2 separate regions of the Homo sapiens genome follow, and region 2 is linked to region 1. The links come from fine-mapping of genetic effects on plasma protein levels. A gene starts in region 1. The other region holds a variant in brackets. All regions are shown on one strand. Distances are between the middles of the regions. Region 1 holds the start of TGFB1 (transforming growth factor beta 1). Region 2 overlaps CCDC97 (coiled-coil domain containing 97).

Evidence for each region. PIP is the chance, under the fine-mapping model, that this variant and not a neighbour inherited with it causes the effect. Protein levels are from antibody-based Olink assays in UK Biobank. Linkage for the fine-mapping came from a reference panel and not from the study's own genotypes, which makes the PIPs less certain.
Region 2: its variant is fine-mapped to the plasma level of the TGFB1 protein (UK Biobank, PIP above 0.99).

Annotation. Positions count from the first base shown.
Region 1 is chr19:41,352,888-41,355,387 of GRCh38, reverse strand. It overlaps TGFB1 (transforming growth factor beta 1), which reads left to right and starts at 1,466. Exons shown (of 7, transcript NM_000660.7): 1 at 1,466-2,500. The coding sequence starts at 2,344. B9D2 (B9 domain containing 2) reads left to right here. Exons shown (of 4, transcript NM_030578.4): 4 at 375-971. The coding sequence ends at 688. RefSeq lists enhancers at 589-1,090, 1,014-1,163 and silencers at 1,164-1,693, 1,844-1,913, 2,214-2,293, 2,454-2,500.
Region 2 is chr19:41,317,741-41,320,692 of GRCh38, reverse strand. CCDC97 (coiled-coil domain containing 97) reads right to left here. Exons shown (of 5, transcript NM_052848.3): 3 at 841-1,119; 4 at 223-352. Among named protein-coding and RNA genes, the nearest start is that of CCDC97, 9.0 kb to the right of the region's middle. RefSeq lists an enhancer at 24-761. The variant G/A (reference allele first, on the strand shown) is at 1,407.

The sequences.
Region 1 (2,500 bases):
GACTGGAGGAGCAATGGGCTGCCCTGACATGGGGTCATGGAGGAGGATAACACAGAGAGGAAATTCAGCAGAGGTCTGATTAGAAGGGCCTTGAATGTTGAAGAGGTTGGACTTTATACTGAGGGCACTGGGGAGCTATGGAAGGATCCTTAGCAGGGGAGTAACATGGATTTGGAAAGATCACTTTGGCTGCTGTGTGGGGATAGATAAGACGGTGGGAGCCTAGAAAGGAGGCTGGGTTGGAAACTCTGGGACAGAAACCCAGAGAGGAAAAGACTGGGCCTGGGGTCTCCAGTGAGTATCAGGGAGTGGGGAATCAGCAGGAGTCTGGTCCCCACCCATCCCTCCTTTCCCCTCTCTCTCCTTTCCTGCAGGCTGGCCCCGGCTCCATTTCCAGGTGTGGTCCCAGGACAGCTTTGGCCGCTGCCAGCTTGCAGGCTATGGATTTTGCCATGTGCCCAGTAGCCCGGGCACCCACCAGCTGGCCTGCCCCACGTGGCGGCCCCTGGGCAGTTGGCGAGAACAGTTGGCACGGGCTTTCGTGGGTGGTGGGCCGCAGCTGCTGCATGGGGACACCATCTACAGTGGGGCCGACCGCTATCGCCTGCACACAGCTGCTGGTGGCACCGTGCACCTGGAGATCGGCCTGCTGCTCCGCAACTTCGACCGCTACGGCGTGGAGTGCTGAGGGACTCTGCCTCCAACGTCACCACCATCCACACCCCGGACACCCAGTGATGGGGGAGGATGGCACAGTGGTCAAGAGCACAGACTCTAGAGACTGTCAGAGCTGACCCCAGCTAAGGCATGGCACCGCTTCTGTCCTTTCTAGGACCTCGGGGTCCCTCTGGGCCCAGTTTCCCTATCTGTAAATTGGGGACAGTAAATGTATGGGGTCGCAGGGTGTTGAGTGACAGGAGGCTGCTTAGCCACATGGGAGGTGCTCAGTAAAGGAGAGCAATTCTTACAGGTGTCTGCCTCCTGACCCTTCCATCCTTCAGGTGTCCTGTTGCCCCCTCCTCCCACTGACACCCTCCGGAGGCCCCCATGTTGACAGACCCTCTTCTCCTACCTTGTTTCCCAGCCTGACTCTCCTTCCGTTCTGGGTCCCCCTCCTCTGGTCGGCTCCCCTGTGTCTCATCCCCCGGATTAAGCCTTCTCCGCCTGGTCCTCTTTCTCTGGTGACCCACACCGCCCGCAAAGCCACAGCGCATCTGGATCACCCGCTTTGGTGGCGCTTGGCCGCCAGGAGGCAGCACCCTGTTTGCGGGGCGGAGCCGGGGTGCCCGCCCCCTTTCCCCCAGGGCTGAAGGGACCCCCCTCGGAGCCCGCCCACGCGAGATGAGGACGGTGGCCCAGCCCCCCCATGCCCTCCCCCTGGGGGCCGCCCCCGCTCCCGCCCCGTGCGCTTCCTGGGTGGGGCCGGGGGCGGCTTCAAAACCCCCTGCCGACCCAGCCGGTCCCCGCCGCCGCCGCCCTTCGCGCCCTGGGCCATCTCCCTCCCACCTCCCTCCGCGGAGCAGCCAGACAGCGAGGGCCCCGGCCGGGGGCAGGGGGGACGCCCCGTCCGGGGCACCCCCCCGGCTCTGAGCCGCCCGCGGGGCCGGCCTCGGCCCGGAGCGGAGGAAGGAGTCGCCGAGGAGCAGCCTGAGGCCCCAGAGTCTGAGACGAGCCGCCGCCGCCCCCGCCACTGCGGGGAGGAGGGGGAGGAGGAGCGGGAGGAGGGACGAGCTGGTCGGGAGAAGAGGAAAAAAACTTTTGAGACTTTTCCGTTGCCGCTGGGAGCCGGAGGCGCGGGGACCTCTTGGCGCGACGCTGCCCCGCGAGGAGGCAGGACTTGGGGACCCCAGACCGCCTCCCTTTGCCGCCGGGGACGCTTGCTCCCTCCCTGCCCCCTACACGGCGTCCCTCAGGCGCCCCCATTCCGGACCAGCCCTCGGGAGTCGCCGACCCGGCCTCCCGCAAAGACTTTTCCCCAGACCTCGGGCGCACCCCCTGCACGCCGCCTTCATCCCCGGCCTGTCTCCTGAGCCCCCGCGCATCCTAGACCCTTTCTCCTCCAGGAGACGGATCTCTCTCCGACCTGCCACAGATCCCCTATTCAAGACCACCCACCTTCTGGTACCAGATCGCGCCCATCTAGGTTATTTCCGTGGGATACTGAGACACCCCCGGTCCAAGCCTCCCCTCCACCACTGCGCCCTTCTCCCTGAGGACCTCAGCTTTCCCTCGAGGCCCTCCTACCTTTTGCCGGGAGACCCCCAGCCCCTGCAGGGGCGGGGCCTCCCCACCACACCAGCCCTGTTCGCGCTCTCGGCAGTGCCGGGGGGCGCCGCCTCCCCCATGCCGCCCTCCGGGCTGCGGCTGCTGCCGCTGCTGCTACCGCTGCTGTGGCTACTGGTGCTGACGCCTGGCCGGCCGGCCGCGGGACTATCCACCTGCAAGACTATCGACATGGAGCTGGTGAAGCGGAAGCGCATCGAGGCCATCCGCGGCCAGA
Region 2 (2,952 bases), 35 kb after region 1:
CCCCTGCCTTAGAGGTGAGGAGACTGAGGGTCTGAGATGGACAAGGCTAGTCCGAGGTCACCCAGCCTCTTCCTTTGGCTGTTCAACCCCACATCCTGGAACTGTTTTGGGGCCTTGTAGCTCCACAAAGGGAGACCCCCACAGCTTGTTAAGGGCTCTGCATGTGACCAAAGGCCGTGGGATGCTGGGCTGGGGGATGGGGAGGTGGAGGCACAGGAGCACCTGTAGTCAAAGTCCCCGTCCTTGCCATCTAGGAAGCGCTGGTGCATGCGGCTGGTGAACTCCTCTCGCAGGATCAGCCTCTCCTCCGAGTCGGGAACCCAGGCCTCCGAGTCCTTGCCTGACCTCTGGTCTGCAGAGGGAGAGGAGAGGGGGTGTGAATGCGGGTGCACTCGGGCAGGCACTGAGCACAGAGTCCACAGAGAGCTGCTGCTCCTGTGCCCAGCCTTGCGCTGGGTGGCTCTGGGAACACACTAGTGACAGAGATGGCCCTGGTCCCTGCCCTCCAGGGACACGCATAAAACACATGACCATATAGTGCTCTGGAGACTGTATCCTCGGGTCAGGATCTGAGACCTGAAGGGTGGGAGGAGAGGCATTCCTGGCGGAGGGAACAGCCTGTCCAGACCTGGAGGCGAGGGTTCATTTGGTGCCTCAGAGTGGGGGATGGGGATGCTGCAGCGGTTGGAAGGGCATACACAGAGAGTCAGGCTGGGCAGGGGAGGGACGCAATGTCGGCTTTTGCAGGTTGGGGGCCCAGCCTGCTGCCATGAAGTGGAGACAGACAGGCCTAGGGCTGGGGTGTCTGGAATCTGGGGTCTTCCTGCTACTGGCCCTCACCTTCCTCGTCACTGTCCTCCTCCTCTTCCTCTTCCTCCAAGCAGGCCTCCTCCTCCTCCTGCTGTTGGAGCAGACGCTGCTGTAGCTCCCGCTCCTCGTAGGACTGGAGCAGCAAGTTGGAGAGCGGGCAAGCAGGTCTCCCGGGGGACCCGGGCTTGGGGGGCTGGTGGGTTGGGGTGCGGGCACTGAGCTCCTCCTGGGTGAGATACTGCCCGATGTACTGCTCATATAGCAGGGGGGCCCGGAACCGCATCTGCTCATCACTGAAGTACTCGCCCCCTGCACAGAGGAGAGACAGGGTGGGCATGGGGTGAGCGACTGAGCAGATAGTGTCCATGTGGGTATGTGTGTGATCATGCTTGTGGGATGATGTGCATACACAGTCCAAGTGTGTGTATGCACACATTCAAAAACACAGGAAAACATGCAGGCACCTGAGGTGCGCGTGAGTACTCATGCAGGCGCCTGAGGCGTGCGTGTGAATAATGCAGGCGCCTGAGGCATGCACGTGAATACTCATGCAGGTGCCTGAAGCTGTGTGCGCAAGCACTCATGCAGGCACCTGA[G/A]GTCATGTGCATGTGATTACTCGTGCAGGCACCTGAGTGTGTGTATGTGGCCCGGCCTCTATCTTCCTGTGTATTCATGTATTCATGCATCCAAGCATGTGTGTGCATGGGCAGACCTGGCTACATCCTGGCCTCTGAGGCTCTGACGGTCTGGAGCTCGTGTACAACTGTGTCCAGGCACGATGCACAAGCTCCTGCCCATGGACGTGTACATGGCCTATGTACACACACATGTCCTGTGAGGCCCAGCATATGCCCACAGACACCTGTCTGTCTGGGTGTCAGCATGCAGGACAATGCAGCAGAAGTTGTGTGTCTCTAGGTTGTGTGCCTGTTTGTGGGGCCCTAGTCTGGCTGGCAGTGGACACGCCTTCACTGTGGGGCGTGTATGTGTGTACATCCACGTGGATTTGGCATGTGTGTGCAAGGGATCAGGTCAGGTGGGGCATCTGCCCGTGTATCCCTGGGAAAGCCTCCTGGTGGTGGAAGGCCCTAGATCCATCCTCTCTCGAGTGCTCCTCTATGCAGCAACCCCTCAGGTGGGCCTGGCTTCCCCACTACCCCAAAACTTGAGTTCCCTGCATCACCCCTGGCTGCCTGTTTCTGCACGAGTGACTCTGTCCCTCAAATAACAGTTAAACCTGCCCTGGTCCCTCCCCTCCACTGGTCCTAGCCGTGTCTTCAGAGTCCAGGGCAAAGAAACTGCTCGGACTCCTGGCCTCTGCAGCACCATAGGCTGTGACTGTCCCTGTCCTGCTCAGCTTCCCCACTCCTGCCAGCAATCTTACCCCCAGCTGTTTGTGGCATCCTCTAGCAGACTCAGTTTTTTGAGATGGAGTCTCGCTCTGTTGCCCAGGCTGGAGTGTAGTGGTGTGATCTCGATTAACTCTAACTGCAACCTCCGCCTCCCGGGTTCAAGTGATTCTCCTGCCTCAGCCTCCTGAGTAGCTGGGATTATAGGCACCTGCCACAGTGCCTGGCTAATTTTTTTTGTATTTTTAGTAGAGCCGGGGTTTCACCATGTTGGCCAGGCTGGTCTTGAACTCCTTATCTCAAGTGATTTGCCTGCCTCGGCCTCCCAAAGTGCTGGGATTACAGGTCTGAGCCACTGTGCCCAGCCTCTAGCAGATTCAGTTTCTATCCCTCCTTCTCCCCAACTTGGATTATCACCCACCCCGGCTCTGGATCTCTCTCCATCTCTTCCTTTATCTCCATCTTTCTATCTTTCCTGCTTTTTTCAGTTTCTGTCACCTACCCCCACCTCATTCATCTTTCTTCTTTTTTTTTTTTTTTTGGCAACCTCCACCTCCCAGATTCATGTAATTCTCCTCCCTCAGCCTCCCAAGTAACTGAGATTACAGTTGCCTGCCACCACATGTGGCTAATTTTTTTGTATTTTTAGTAGAGATGGGGTTTCACCATGTTGGCCAGGCTGCTCTGGAACTCCTGACCTCAGGTCCACCCCCACCTCGCCCTCCCAAAGTGCTGGGATCACCGGCTTGAGTGACTGTGCCCGGCCCATCTTCCTTCTGTTTTCATCCTCATT